4 linked regions of the Homo sapiens genome follow. The protein of the gene in region 4 interacts with the protein of the main gene of each other region in a pairwise test. Each region holds a gene or a part of one and is shown on either strand. Other genes may lie near its edges.

Region 1 (3,978 bases), on a different chromosome or scaffold from region 4:
AATTCATGTCACCACCAGCCAGAGTGGAGAGAACTCGTAACATGCAGCGTTCAGTAGCGTCCTCAGAAGGGTCATGTCAGAGTAGGGGGGCTAAATTAGCCCTCGATGAAAGGCTGCTCTGAGCCAAGCATGTTGGCTCACACCTGTAATCCCAGCACTTTGGGAGGCCGAGGTGGGCAGATCACTTGAGGTCAGAAGTTAAGAGAACAGCCTGGCCAACATGGTGAAACCCCATCTCTACTAAAAATACAAAAATTAGCTGGGTATGGTGGCACACCTCTCTAATTCCAGCTACTTAGGAGGCTGAGACAGGAGAATTGCTTGAACCTGGGAGTTGGAGGGTGTAATGAGCCAAGATCACGCCACTTCACTCCAGCCTGGGCAACAGAGCAAGGCTTTGTCTAAAAAAAAAAAAAAAAGAAGAAAGGAACGCTACTCTCAACCTTTACTCAGAAAGACGAAAAGCAGCCAGGCGTGGTGGCTCACGCCTATAATCCCAGCACTTTGGGAAGCTAAGAGGGGTGGATCACTTGAGGTCAGGAGTTCGAGACCAGCCTGGCCAACGTGGTGAAACCCCGTCTCTACTAAAAATACAAAAACTAGCCAGGTGTGGTAGTGGGTGCCTAGAATCCAAGCTACTTGGGAGGCTGAGGCAGGAGAATCGCTTGAATCCAGGAGGCAGAGGTTGTAGCAAGCCAAGATTGTGCCACTGCACTCCAGCCTGGGCAATAGAGCAAGACTCCGTCTCAAAAAAAAAAAAAAAAAAAAAAAAAAAGGAGTTAATCCTGGCCAGCGTGGTGGCTCATGCCTATAATCTCAGTATTTTGGGAGGCCAAGGTAGGAGCAATATACTGAGACCCTACCTTGATTAAAAAAAAAAAAGAGTCAATTCCATAACTAAATCCAACATACCCAATAATGCATGTATCTAAAACATGCATTAATTTAAAGTCTGTTTTCTTTTTTTTGAGACAGAGTCTCCCTCTGTCACCCAGGCTAGAGTGCAGTGGTGCAATTTTGGCTCATTGCGACCTCCACCTCCCAGATTCAAGCAATTCTCCTGCCTCAGCCTCCTGAGTAGCTGGGATTACAGGCGTGCACCACCACGCCTGGCTAATTTTTGGTTAATATGGGCCAGGCACAGTGGCTCACCCCTGTAATCCCAGCACTTTGGGAGGCCAAGGCAGAAGGATCACCTGAGGCCAAGAGTTCAAGACCAGCCTAGCCCACATGGCAAAACCTCATGTCTACTAAAAATATAAAAACTAACCAGGTGTGGCCGGCGCGGTGGCTCACGCCTGTAATCCCAGCACTTTGGGAGGCCGAGGCGGGCAGATCACGAGGTCAGGAGATCGAGACCATCCTGGCTAACACGGTAAGACCCCATCTCTACTAAAAATACAAAAAAAAAATTAGCCGGGTGTGGTGGCGGGCGCCTGTAGTCCCAGCTACTCAGGAGGCTGAGGCAGGAGAATGGCATGAACCCGGGAGGCGGAGCTTGCAGTGAGCTGACATCGCACCACTGCACTCCAGCGTGGGTGACAGAGTGAGACTCCGTCTCAAAAAAAAAAAAAAACTAGCCAGGTGTGATGGTGTATGCCTGTAATCCCAACTAATCCAGAGGCTGAGGCATGAAAATTGCTTGAACTCAGGAGATGGAGGTTGCAGTGAGCTGGGATCGTGCCACTGCACTCCAGCCTGGGCAACAAGAGTCTCAACAAAAAAAAAAGAAAGAAAGAAAATTGGGCTGGCAGTGCTCACCTCGGCAGCCCATATAGTAATTGGGCTGGCAAAAGCCCAGCACAAAACAGCATCCAATGACTAGTAGTCATCAAAACAAAAGGAATTGCCCCAGTTGGACCAGGGCTGACAAGGGGTTCACTAAATGCCTGCGATGCACTAGGTTCTGTCTTAGGTGCTCACATCTCAAGGGGAAACAGGTAGCTGCTAAAGGCACACTGTGGCCAGACCAGGCCCTGTAGAGCAGGTTGCCATAGATGCTAAGGCAGACCCCTCGAGCCCTCTCCTTACCAGGGAGCTTCCCCAGTTCTCACACTGAGGCCAGGAAGCAGCTCTGTGTACTGATAAGCAATTCCAATATAATTTTTTAAATTATGAGAGCTTTTCATAGAGAGCCTCAAAAATCAGAGTTTGAACCCTCTCTTAGTGTTCAGTCCCCTCAAATATGCCAAATGTATATTTTACTTTCTTCCGTTAAACTATTTTTTTCTTTTTCTTTTTTTTTTTTTGAGATGGAATCTTGCTCTTGTCACTCAGGCTGGAGTGCAGTGGTGCGATCTCGGCTCACTGCAACCTCTGCCTCCCGGTTCAAGCAATTACCCGGTTCAAGTAATTCTCCTGTCTCAGTCTCCCAAGGAGCTGGGACTTCAGGCACACACCACCACACCCGGCTAATTTTTGTATTTTTAGTAGAGACGGAGTTTCACCACATTGGTCAGGCTAGTCTCGAACTCCTGACCTCAGGTGGTCCACCCACCTCAGCCTCCCAAAGTGCTGGGATTACAGGCATAAGCCACCACGCTCAGACCCTTGTTGAAGTACTAACACTACTGCCCTATTTTTCTGACATGCTGCAGAGCTCACAGAGCACTTTCACACAGACTGTATTATCCAGGTGTTGGGATGATCTCACCCCTAAGTGGGAATGTTGTGAATTACTTACAAACGTAAATAATACTTCAAACTCATATGAATGCCAAACAATAGTAATAGGGTGAAGGACCCTTTATCTTCTTAAATGTCAGGAAATTATCAACTGGATTGATGCCTAAAAGCACATAAATGAGACAAGTGGTACAATAAAACCTGCTAGCGCTCACCTCCCTCTAATGCAGATTTTATTATATAGCCAAAGTGACATTTCACACATCATAAGGATGCAATGGGGATTTCTTTCACCACAGCACAAAACCCTACCATGGCAAGGTGCTACTAGTCCCGCTGTTAAATGACACAAGCATGCGAGTATCCTGATGTTCAGTGTCCCCGCAGTAGCTACATCCAATAATCCAGCAGTTTGCAGGTGCCCTGGTTCTGATCCTTAACACCCTTCCTCTCCCACATGTTCTTATGCCTTCCAGTCCTATTCTCTGTGCCTTCATTTCTGAATCTAATACACACACAGAAGTAGTATTTCCTATGACCTCCTTATCATTCATGGAATTTTTTGTTTTTTGTTTTTTGTTTTTTTTTTTTTTTGAGATGGAGTCTCACTCTGTCACCCAGGCTGGAATGCAGTGGCCCGATCTCAGCTCACTGCAAGCTCTGCCTCCCAGGTTCGCACCATTCTCCTGCCTCAGCCTCCCTAGTAGCTGGGACTACAGGTGCCTGTCACCACACCTGGCTAATTTTTTGTATTTTTAGTAGAGACAGGGTTTCACCGTGTTAGCCAGGATGGTGTCTATCTCCTGACCTCGTGATCCGCCCACCTCGGCCTCCCAAAGTGCTGGGATTCACTCATGGAGTTTTATTCAAAGAACAACCTGACTTTTGTCCTCCGTTAAGGAAAAATGCTGATGTGTATGTGATCAATCAGAACCCCCATCTGAGAAGGCATCTTGGCTCACCTCCAGTCTCAATGCAGGGATATGGCGGCGGAGGCTCTCTCCAATTCCCACTGGAGTCTTTCATGTGAGATCGGTCAGAAGCAAAGTTCTTCAAATATGAATCTGCACGGATCACTCTAAATTTCCTGCAGAAAAATCAATATACACTCACATTAGGGAGATGTCATGTTTGAAATTCTAACTCCATTTTTATATCGACTCATTTCCTATGACATGCACAAAACTACTCATGCATTTCTGTATGGTTAGTAATACAGGCAACTTTACTACCTATTAGAGAAGCATAGGAAATGATCAACCAAACCCCGAAACAGAAAGGCAAAGGCACAAAAATATATCTGGTTGCCTCGATTTACTCGATTTGTGTATCAAGGGCAATGGGCATGATTTT
Region 2 (3,978 bases), on a different chromosome or scaffold from region 4:
GTCTTTGTTCTCATTATGGAGTGTGTGCGCCAGGGGTGGGTTGGGGAAGCCTGGGGCAGATGGGATGGGGGTGTGTACCTTCCCGGATGGCGGTGCAGGGTGCCCCCTCTTCATGTTCCAGTCTGATCTCCTTGAGTGCCACAAGGTTGTCTGTGAGCTTGCTTTTGCCTTTGTAGACGGTGGCATAGGTACCCTGGAATGTGAGGAAGTGTGACAGGAGAGGTGCTATGAGATTCCAGGAGTTCCCACTGACCTTCATCCCCACCATGGGCCTCCTATTTGCCTCTCACCTCGCCCAGTTTGTCCAGCTTAATGTAGGTCTCCAGTTTCCCAAAGCCAATCTCAGACTGTGGGACAAATGAGGCAGGTTAAAGCTGGCTCAGGAGAAGGGTCTGGGAGAGAAGAAAAAGGAGAGGACGGGAACAGAAGGTGCTTACTAGGCTGACACGACGGAGGCGGCGGCTGAGGGGCTTGTCAAAGATGGGGCTATTGAGGGTCAGCTTCTCCAGGTAGCCCTCAGGCAGCCGGATGTCAGCTGGTAGTGATAGGCGCTTGTTGATGTCCTAGCAGGTAAGGCAAGAGAGAAACAGGATCATGAGCTCCACCTCCCCAGGTCCAACCCCCTTTTCCAGTTCCTCCACCATCCAGACGGGGTCAAGCACCTCAGTGGAGATCTTGCGTGGGGGATGGTTGCGCATACGCACTCTCACTGGAGACTGCACCTCATCCGAGGACGTGGCTGAAGCCTGGTCACTCTCCCCATCAGACCCCATCTTCAAGTCCTCGTGCACAATCTCTGGTGGCAGGGAGAGGGGTAGGGCAGGCCAGGTGGGGTCAGGAACCACAGGACACCCCATCCCCCACGAAACATATTCCATCATCACACATGTGTGCACGTGGCCCCCACAGGAAACCTGGAGTCCCTCGGGGAGAGGGTGATGTACCTGAGCCCAGGGAAGCTCAGGTACATCTAGGGCAGGTTGAACTGGGGGGTGGGGAAGCAAAAGTCACCTAGTGGAACCCTTCCTTCCAAGGGCAAGCTGAGCTCAGAGCCGGCAGCTAGGTGGTGGCAGGGGAAGCCAAGGGTCCTGGGAAGGCAGGCCCAGGGCAGGCAGGTACCAGAGGACTGAGGAGGCCATCATAGAGGGCAGAAGGGCAGAGGGAGCCTTGGGGCAGCTGTGACAGGCAAGGCACCTTCTGTCCCCCACCACGGGGCCTGGGCAGAAAGGCAAGAAGAGGAGCGCAGATGGACAGATAGACAGACGGTGTTGAGAGAAGATGGGAGGGAAGGGGGAGAAGAGAGCACATGGGGGGCAGAGAAAGGGCAGAAAATTTAGAGGAAAATGAGGAATGTGACCAGGAGGCAACACCTGGGAAGCAGCCTGGGGCCATATGGGAGAGGGGATAGCCAGTGGACCCACCTGGTGCAGAGCTGAGTGGGCCCCGTGCAGAACGAAGTTCCCCAGGAGCAGCACGTGTGGGGGCCTCTCCAGGGTCACTGCCGCCACCACCACCACTCTCATCCAGGCCTATCTGCTCAGGGGCACCATTGGTCTTGTCTATGCCTCGGCCACCTCGGAGTGTCATTGACAGCTGCCGTTTGATCTTCTTCATCCGATCCATGGCGATCTGAGCAAGGGACAAGGATGGAAATGGGTCTCTTATTAGCATTTGCTTGATCACCATGGGTTCCCTAAAGCCCACAGCCTAGCAGGGGGCACTGACATGAACTTGTCAGTGCTCACTCAACCACTATGGACCCCAGAGCCACTCAGGAGTTCTGGAAACCCAGCATGGATGGGGATCTTTGTCAGTACCTGCCCACCCACACAGCCAGCCCCACTGGGACCCTGCTCCTACGTAGCCCACCTGAGTTCTCAGATTTAGGTGGCTGATTGAGGGCAAGGGCCCTAACGATGGATTGTTGGGATCTAGGGGAAAAGCCCCACTGCAGGAGCAGAAGGCTCCATTGCAGATCTTCTCAGGTACAGCTGCAGTGATGGGCCCAGCCATGGGTCGGCCAGGGCGTGTGCCCAGAATTGAAGGATGGGTGACATGGTCTCGAGCACGGCCATAGAGTGGCATAGTTCCCCTAGCACCACCCTCAAAGGCCAAGGCAGACTATTCCCTGTGGCCACAGGGACCCTCTTCCTGACTTCTCTAGCACTCATCGTCATGACAACCACTGCATCATCCCATTCATCTACCCAGGTGGGGGGGGGGAGGGGAGCGTGTGTCAGGGTGTCCTGCCCAGACCCAACCACTGGGTGGGATTGTGTGGAGGGCGGGGGGGTCTCAGTGTACACCAGCTCTTCTCAGGGCTGCCAGAACGGTTTGATCAGGTTAGGACCCCTAGGGTCCAATCTAGACTTTTACAAGCCAAGTCACATTTCTCCTCTACTCAAGAATGTACATTTTTCATCACCCCAAATACACGCCCCAGTCCTCAATGTGGCCCACAGGTGTTTCTTTACCTCATTTGCCCCTATTGCCTCTTGCCCACGGCCCCCCCCCACCCCCACACCCCCCCGCCATCATTCCTAGTTGCTGTTCTGCAACCACACCCAGTAGAGTCCCACCTCGGGGCCTTTACACTGGCTGTTCCTGGTACCTGGAACACCCTTCCCCTAAATTTCGAAATGGCTCACTCCCCTCTCCCTTTGGGCCATTGCTCAAAGGTCACCTTTTTCATGAGGCCTCTGTGAATAACCCTATTTAAAATCTCAACCATCCCGAACTCCCTCACCTTGCCAGTTATCCCCCCAGCACTCATTACCTCCTCAGAAATGACACCACCTACTTATTGGTTTCTTTAGTCTTTACTGTCTATCTCCTCACCGCCACAACTAGAAGATCAGCTCCGCCAGGGTAGATTTCTGTGTTTAGGTCACGGCTATATCCTGAGGACCTGGAATAGTGACTGACACAGAGTAGATGCTCAAAAAGTGCTTATGGCAGAAATAAGTGAATCAGGGGGCTGAGGGCCTAGGACCAACCTCTGCTGAGGTGATGAGTCCCTGCTATTCATTGAACAACCCTAAACAAGGTAGCCCAGGGATGCTGGCATCGACAGGAAGATGACCTAGATGGATTGCTGAAGGGAATGGGGCCACCAAAAGGCTTAGGCCAGCCGTCTTCTGCTTCCTCTTGGGCTCTGGGCCAGCAAGGAGGGGGAAAGACCTGACCCAGGAACCATCTGGACTCACAGCAGGGCCTAAGATGGCCCTGGGCCCAAGGGAAGTAGAGCTAGATAGGAGGTCGAGGATGAGACTGGGGCTGGATTTGAGGAGAGAAATGGGTCATCTGCTACCTTGAAATCAGGTGCTTCCCCCAGCAGTTCTCGCCCCCACCTGGCTGAACTCACTATCCCCAGGAGGGGTAGGGGCCACCCTAGCAGAAAGACCTCAGATACAGGATGAGGTCCATCCATGGAGAACCCAGGATAACCACAAAACATCCTGACCTGGGAGGCTGAATACTGGGCCTAAGGCAAGGAAGGTAAAGCATGGCCAGCTCCCAAAGACAACCTTGTGTCCCCATATGGCACAGATACCCAGTTGCTTTGCATGTTGTGACAGGGAGTAGGGGAGGGGCTGGGGGAGACTGGAAGTAGGGCTGAATGGAGGATGGGGAGGAAGCCAGGAGGAGCCATGGGTCCACGACCTCTAACTGGAAACCCCAAGGGCTGGACATGCTCTGGAGTTCAGTTTTTTGGGATTTTAGGAAGATGGGGTGTAAAATCTGTATATCACATAACACTCCCAGAAAGGGGGATGGGGGTCTCAGACATGCCCCTGTGAACAGAGATAATTGAACATTTATACGCAAGGAAACTTTTAAATATCATTTCAGTTGAATGAGCTTTTTAGATTTCAAAAAAGGAGGGAGCAAGAAACTGGACATAAAACCTTACCCCAAAAAAGGCACATGTCCTGCCTGACCCTTCCTGATCCCCAAAGACATACACCCATCCTCAGA
Region 3 (3,978 bases), on a different chromosome or scaffold from region 4:
ACAACTCCCCAAGTTAAGAGGTCTGTGATGCGCATGCCGGAGAAAAAGCCTGGAGCCAGAACAGAACACCACCAAGAAGGCCGGACCCCGGGCTCCAGAGGCTGCTGTGAGGGAACCCTGCTCCCCACTCTGCCCAACGGCCCAGCCCAAGCCCCAGGCCTCAGGTAATCGGATTAAGCAGCCTGCCTTGGCTCTCAGCTTCTACAGGAACAGCTCCAGCTCTGAGCAGCCCTGCCTAGCCTGTGCTGTGACTCAGGGTATAGGAGTGGCCCAACTCCCTCTACCAGCAAACTTGGGGGAGGGGAGAAGCAACAAGGCACAAGCCCCCCTCCTCTGAACCAGGAGGGAGAACCTGGGCCTGGGGAGTTTAGGAATGTCAGGAATTCCCAGAAGTAAGACCATCTTTGGGACAAGAGACAATGAAGAGAAGTCAGATGTGGAGGAACAGAAAACAAGAGCCAGGGGCCAGGGCAGGTCAGTCCTAGAGAAACAAATGGACCAAACTGGGGACAAAGAAGGCACAGGAGCCAGACAGCCATTTGGATTTTTTTATTCTCTTTTTAAATACTGTACAGTGAAAAATAAATACGCCTTCTCATCCACCAGACAAGGTTGGTCCCCTCCCCAGGGGGACCTTGTCACCCCCCTTCATACACACCCCTGGTTCTACTCCAAAACCTTCCCCGTGCCTCCCACCCACTTATCTCTTACTATCCCCGTCTTCCACAGTGATGAGGCCCCAGAAATGGGGGGTACAGGATGGGAGGAGGGATAGCAGGGGAGGCCCCCTGAACGGTCAAATCTGGGTGGGTCGAGGAGCACCCCCCACCAACAGGTGGAGAATGGGGGTGTTCAGAGAGAGATTGGGGCATTAGAGGATAAAGGCACATCCAGTCTGATGGGGAAGGAGAGAGGCTCCCCTTACCCTGGGGGTAGGGTGGACAAGAGGGAGGGGGTATGACCCTGTTACACACCCCTCCACTAGCTCCTGGAGGTTGGGGGGTACCCAAGCTGCTGTGCCACCCCCCTCCCCCCTAGATAAGAGCAGCTCCAGCGCAGGTCAGTTGGGCCTGTGAGGGCCATGGTGTTGGGCAGCAAGCGAGATGGAGAAGGGAGGGGTGCAGGTTGGAGGTTTTATGAAACCCCATTCACCATACTACCCAACTCCAAGGGGGCGGAGAGCTCCCCATTCTCCGAGGGGCCCTTAGGAAGCTTGCTGACAGAGTCACCCTGAGGGGAAAGTGGGAAAGAAAACAGAAAAGCAAGAAGCGGTGAGTAGAAATTCAGGTGGGAGACATTCCCTACCATCCAAGCCCTCCTGGCATTTGGTGATCCAGAGGTTGGTTCCCTGATCTCATGATCCAGTCTCTCTTACTTGGGATCCAGAAAATGTGAACCACACTTTCTTCTCTATCCTATTCAAAGTTTACACTGGTCTAAACTCCATCAGACACAGCTGCCTCTGCAATTCAGTAGGAGATTTGTGAAATTTTTTGTGCCCCCTGCCCCAGAGTAACAACAAAAAAGGGATGGGGTAAAGCACATCTTGCCTGCCTACCTTCTGTCCTGAAAGAGAGTCTTCTGAGGGTTTAGTGCGTTCCAGGGGTGGCCTCTGGCGGCTCTGAGACTCTGCTCGTGAGATATAGTCAGCCACAGTCACTGGGGAAGGCAGGAGATTAAGACTTTCAGATGGAATTCTGGTAGCCAGCCTAAGACACCCACTGAACCCGAACCCCTGATTTTCACAGGGGTGAGCATCCCATTCTCTCAGCTCTGAGGAAGGATTCTGGTGTCCAGAGTTGGCTGACCTGGCTGGCGGTCTCCACTGATAGAGCCATCAGTCCGATTACCACGGTTACGGCGGCGGCGGCTGCGATTACGACGTTGAGGTCTTGATTCATCTTCTGTAGGGTAGGAAAAAACCAGAGTCACACATCCAACCTCCCACCCTCGATTCCTACCCATCTCTAACTTTCCAGACCCCAGGCACACCCTCACCCAGGCCATTCTCTGTCATGTTGGGCCCATCTGATTCCAGGCCTCCATCCATGACGGTCCTGTCTTCATCAGTGCGGCGGCGGCGGGAGCGGCGGCGCCTGGCACTTGCTGGGGGGGGTTCCCCAGGTTCTGAATCAACCGGGGGCTCTGGTTCAGACGTGTCCAATAGGCTGTAGGGATTACTGTCTGGATCCTTCAGCACTGGTCAGAGGAAGAAGAGGAGGAGTTGGCAGTCAGGTGCCCATCATCTTTCCTTTTGGCCCATATTCATGAACCCAGCTGTCTGGTACCTGAGCTAATAGATGAAGAATTGTATCTCGAAGTGGGCCGGGGGGCAGGTGGGGGTCCCCTACCCCGGCCCCCAGTCGGCCGCCTCCGGCTTTCTTCCCCTCGGGTTGGGGGATCCCTGTCGCCAGGCCCAGCTCGGTTGGGCTCCTCTCTCTTCTCTGACTCAGTCTCTGAAGCTGTAGACACATCTGAGCTGGGGCCTGAAGAACACAATGGGATTTATTCACGGCCATTCATCCCACCTCAGGATCCATCACATCCCCCAAACTGGAAGAATTCTCCTTCTCACTCACAAGCCTCCCAGCCAATCAATCACTTTTTCATCATCTCCATTCCAGATTTCCCCAAACTTCCATCCAGACCTCTGCCTCTACCCACAAGCCCTGCCACTCCTTGCCTCCTGTTCCCATAACTGTCTCACCATAGGCAGGACCGCCTGTCCTCCGGCCACGGCCACGGCCCCCATAGCTGCCCCCATAGGTTCGAGTCGCATGGAGGGAGGAGGAGGAGCTCTCATCAGTGCTATATCCAGCCTTGTCGCTGCCACCGCTGCCCCGCCCACTCCCAGGAGGGCGAAAGCCCAGCCCAATCTGCCGAAGCTGCTCATCAATTTGTAGCCTCTCCAAGCGAAGCTGCTCTACCTCCTGGTTGGGTAAAAGATGGAAGAAGGGGAAGGAGAAATAAGATCAGTGCCTTGCTTCATGCTTCTGCACCCTGACTGTCCCTCTATATCTAACCTCTCAGGAATGCAGGGAGAAGGAAGACACTGGCTAAACAAGGAAAATTCTGGGACCCAACCCTATAGCCCCAAATTTCCACAGATGTTTTCTGTTCTACACGGAGAGACAAACAGAGAACCAAAATCCCTGAGCTGACCCCCACAGCAGTCTTAGTTCCCTTTTCACACCCAGCATTTTTCTCTCCCGGCCTGGGTACCTGCAGGTAGGAGAGGTGATACTCCAGCAAAGCCTGGGCATTGCTGATGTTCTCTCGGGTGCCAACAAAAATGAAGGGAACCATTCCCTAGAGAACAGAGAGCAGAAACGATGGATCAGAAAGGAAAATGAAATGGAAGGATTAACGCCGCCCAGTCTCCTAGGGGAGCCTGCCCAGTGGGATCATTCTGGGCTCTAAATCTACTAGTGTTAAACAACTTTCCGTACTCCACCCTCTCAAAGAACAATCCCAGCCCTCAGAGGACAATCCCATTTACTTCTGGAAACCAATCTCTATGCCCACTTGCCCCGTACCCATACCTCCTCCCTGGGGTTCTTCTTGTCATTATCACCTTCCACTCGAACCCTCACCACACCAGATTTATCCACAATCTCCTGGATCACTTTCCCGTTCTTTCCAATCACTTTGCCTGGAATAGGTAAATGAGGAATTCAGCCTTTTATTTTTTTTAAGGAAATAAGAATAAAGCTGATACACCGTCTTCCAGCCTCATTTTCTTTATATGGATTCCATTTACTTCATTCTCCTGCTTCTAGGTTTCTGATGTGTTTTTACAGGACAAAATGTTACAATCCCTAGAAATTTATTCTTTCATTTTTATCACTCCCATTACAGACTGTTTCTCTGTCCTTGTGAAACTGGGAGTCCACAGGGAGGTGCCAATCCTGGATAAAAGCTCAGAATCACTGTAGAGAATCTTGATTCTGACCTCTAACTGTATATACACACCACCAA
Region 4 (3,001 bases):
ACAGCTATCTGCCTTTCAAGTAATCAATACAAAACATTCTACATAGAGAACAAATTGTTTGATAACTAAAATACATTCAAATATAATTCAGTGGCCATTTGCATTACTGTCAAACTTTATATTTCTGCAATCACTAGAAAAGACTATTCTTTGCAAGTTTTTCTAGAATAGTAATCACTGCAAAAGTCCTTTTACTATTTTCAGGCAACAACATTCTGGGAATTCATTGTATACTAGTTGCTATGTGGAGAGAAAATCAGAACCCTGCGTTTAAGACATTTAGAAAACAAACAAGAACACAGAACAGTCTTCCGTGCAAAGTAAGCAAATACTTTCTTGTGGATTTAGTCACGAGGAAAAGATCCCAGAGAAGAATGCCAAGCATATAGTAAGTTTAATAATCAGAACAAAATGGGATCAATTAGGAAAAACTATATACAGGAAATATTTTATATGGTAGTTGATCCTTTTTATGCTGACTATTTTTTAGAGTTTAAAATATGATTATTCTGCAGTCTTCTGAGTTGAAATTATTCAAGTGCCCATCAGGTTCAGAAATTCAGAGGAGTATACTGAATAATTTACTGATATTCCATGATATGTTTAATGTGTTGTTCCTCACTAGCAATTCATAGTTCAATACGCTGTGCAAAATTGTAATGAATGATGTGCTCTAAAGCAGCATTTCCATCAATATTTGTACGTGTATCCACAACAGATGCCTCACATGATTTGTGTGTCTAATTTTCACTGAATCCACTTATGCCTTCAGCACACCCAACAAGTAGTAATCAAGAGAGTTCAATCTATTAAATATACATATATATATTGTCTCCAGACTTTGTGGTCACTTGAATTTTATTTCTTTAAGATTCACCTACTCGAAGTCACATAAGCATTTTAACCATGTATATTATACCAAGTAAAAATTAATACTAAAATGAGGTAATGGAGAAAACAAAATTAGATTTCTTTTGCTTTCAAATAATCCCACACCAAAACATTTTGTGAAAATGAAGTGATTTTTAATTTATAAATAAAAGACTCTCTAAATGATTTTCAGGATGTATATTACAAGTTTAGTTTTAAATAGACTTAAATTTATAACAGGTCTTACAATGATTTCAATAAATAGGCACTCCAGAGCACAATGTGTACGTACAACAATCACGTGTTGACCTCTTAATATTCCAAGGGGATCAAAATCTTTTTCAAACACAGAAAGAAACTGGGCTTTGTGCAATGCTAACCCCAATAGCTATTCTCCTTTATAAACCACAATATTATTGTCAGTTTCGTATACTTTTACTTTATAAAGAACTCCTACAGGAAGAACTTTCTGGAGGTTGTCCCAGATATAAACAGCTACATTTTCAGTCGTGCTATAAGAAAAAAAAACAAAAACAAAAAAAATTCAAAATGCAAACAATAAAATTTCATGTTTAATATTTACAGAAAATAGAAATTCTAGTTTCGAAAGATTTCATTAAATTAAAACTTCAGAAATCACACAACAATCAAAGTATTCAAATCAATTCTTGTTTTACAATCCACATAAGGCAAGATACAGTGCCACCCACCTCACCACATCTGCAAAGTATGGCACATCCATATCCAGATTCTTATGATCAAGGGGCTGCATAATCGCCTCCTAGAGACAAAACCAAGGGAAAATATCATTGACTCCATTTACGACTCAAATTCCAAATTGTTCCACTTATGCCTCTAAACCTCACCTTATCACTTAGCCACTAACTAAATATTTGTAAGTACTAGATTTGAGTCTTACAAGGCAACTTTACAAAATTTCAAGTTGTAAAATAAAGTCAGGCCCAGCTGTCGGTAATGATTAGGAATCCTTGTTACTGAATAAAAAGAGGTGAGAAACCAAAAAGCAGAGAATTCCTGGAGCTTTCTCGCAACACAAGCCATTGTAATTCAGAATTCAGTTTAACACTTTGTGAATCCTGTCCAAACAGTTAGCACAAATATTTTTCCATAACACTGTCACACCTACGGAACAATGCCACAATATCATAAGGACAAAGATCCAGTGACTACTACATTTTATAAAGCAGACCTAGACTGAAATTATGTAAGTAGTTCTAAATTTTTGCTATGAGGAATAATTTAAGAATGATCTTGGGCTCATAGAAGGAAAAATATATATATGTAAAGACTATTACTCCCTAATGCTCGTGTATATTAACATAATGTTTTTCCTCATCATCAGCAAGGATTAAATTGCCTCATTCTTTCTAGGTTTTTGCTTTTAGCTATTGCAAAAAATCTAAGCATCTGTGAAAAAAAAATGTAATTTTCCATAGGACGTAGTTTGAAGAAGGGTACATTAATAACAGTAACAGCAATCATTTCTTGAGAAAAACTAGAATCATACAAAAAGAGTAAGTCCTAGATCAAACAGTTATTGAAATATATCCAATGAAGGGATGTTCCACATGAATAACAAGAAAACGGGCATCCTTGCTTCATCTTCAATCCCAGTTCCAGTCCCAATTTCTCCATTAAAGCCTCTTATGCAGGGCTTTTTGTTTTCTTTTGTTTTGTTTTTAGAGACAGGGTCTCTGTCATCCAGGCTGGAGTGCAAGTGGCATAATCATAGCTCACTGCAGCCTTGAACTCCTGGACTCAAGCAATCCTCCCCCCACGGTAGAGCTCTAACTTTACTCTACATGCCATGATAAGCCACTTTTACTGATGAAAGTGTGTGGTGTCCTTCAGGCATACAAAAGCAGAAAACAGCATAGAGAAGCCCTCCTCCAGTATTTAGTCATATGTTGAGGCCTTTTATGTTGCTGTCTTGTCTCTTTTCTTTCTTTTCTTTTCTTTTCTCTTTTTCTTTTTCTTTCTTTCCCCTCCCCTCTCCTCCCCTGTCCTCCCCTCCCCCTCCTCTTCTCCTGTCTCTGTCTCCCTCTCTCTCTCTCTCCGCCTGCCCCCCAACCCCTGCCCCATAAATGCATGCTGGCCCTATCTGTATAAC

What was found.
Region 1: the proteins of PTS (region 4) and NTAQ1 interact in binary tests that used the Homo sapiens proteins (3 or more experiments, as listed by UniProt).
Region 2: the proteins of PTS (region 4) and CDK16 interact in a two-hybrid assay, tested with the Homo sapiens proteins (one study listed by IntAct).
Region 3: the proteins of PTS (region 4) and FXR2 interact in binary tests that used the Homo sapiens proteins (3 or more experiments, as listed by UniProt).

What each region holds. Positions count from the first base shown.
Region 1 is NC_000008.11:123,436,944-123,440,921, reverse strand, and holds part of NTAQ1 (protein N-terminal glutamine amidohydrolase), read right to left. Parts: intron 3,713-3,978; coding exon 3,588-3,712; intron 2,789-3,587; coding exon of another isoform or gene 2,706-2,788; exon of another isoform or gene 2,593-2,705; intron 1-2,592. UniProt on the Homo sapiens protein: Mediates the side-chain deamidation of N-terminal glutamine residues to glutamate, an important step in N-end rule pathway of protein degradation.
Region 2 is NC_000023.11:47,221,203-47,225,180, reverse strand, and holds part of CDK16 (cyclin-dependent kinase 16), read right to left. Parts: exon of another isoform or gene 2,921-3,978; coding exon of another isoform or gene 2,839-2,920; exon of another isoform or gene 2,801-2,838; intron 2,131-2,800; exon of another isoform or gene 2,086-2,130; coding exon of another isoform or gene 1,870-2,085; intron 1,630-1,869; coding exon of another isoform or gene 1,624-1,629; coding exon 1,422-1,623; intron 797-1,421; coding exon 663-796; intron 564-662; coding exon 438-563; intron 348-437; coding exon 291-347; intron 194-290; coding exon 79-193; intron 1-78. UniProt on the Homo sapiens protein: Protein kinase that plays a role in vesicle-mediated transport processes and exocytosis. Regulates GH1 release by brain neurons. Phosphorylates NSF, and thereby regulates NSF oligomerization. Required for normal spermatogenesis.
Region 3 is NC_000017.11:7,590,696-7,594,673, forward strand, and holds the end of FXR2 (RNA-binding protein FXR2), read right to left. Parts: intron 3,653-3,978; coding exon 3,543-3,652; intron 3,310-3,542; coding exon 3,223-3,309; intron 2,931-3,222; coding exon 2,708-2,930; intron 2,487-2,707; coding exon 2,289-2,486; intron 2,200-2,288; coding exon 1,999-2,199; intron 1,905-1,998; coding exon 1,809-1,904; intron 1,660-1,808; coding exon 1,559-1,659; intron 1,463-1,558; coding exon of another isoform or gene 1,427-1,462; exon of another isoform or gene 1,371-1,426; intron 1,231-1,370; coding exon 1,135-1,230; 3' UTR 535-1,134; downstream 1-534. UniProt on the Homo sapiens protein: mRNA-binding protein that acts as a regulator of mRNAs translation and/or stability, and which is required for adult hippocampal neurogenesis. Specifically binds to AU-rich elements (AREs) in the 3'-UTR of target mRNAs.
Region 4 is NC_000011.10:112,231,813-112,234,813, reverse strand, and holds the end of PTS (6-pyruvoyl tetrahydrobiopterin synthase), read right to left. Parts: intron 1,652-3,001; coding exon 1,581-1,651; intron 1,383-1,580; coding exon 1,259-1,382; 3' UTR 841-1,258; downstream 1-840. UniProt on the Homo sapiens protein: Involved in the biosynthesis of tetrahydrobiopterin, an essential cofactor of aromatic amino acid hydroxylases. Catalyzes the transformation of 7,8-dihydroneopterin triphosphate into 6-pyruvoyl tetrahydropterin.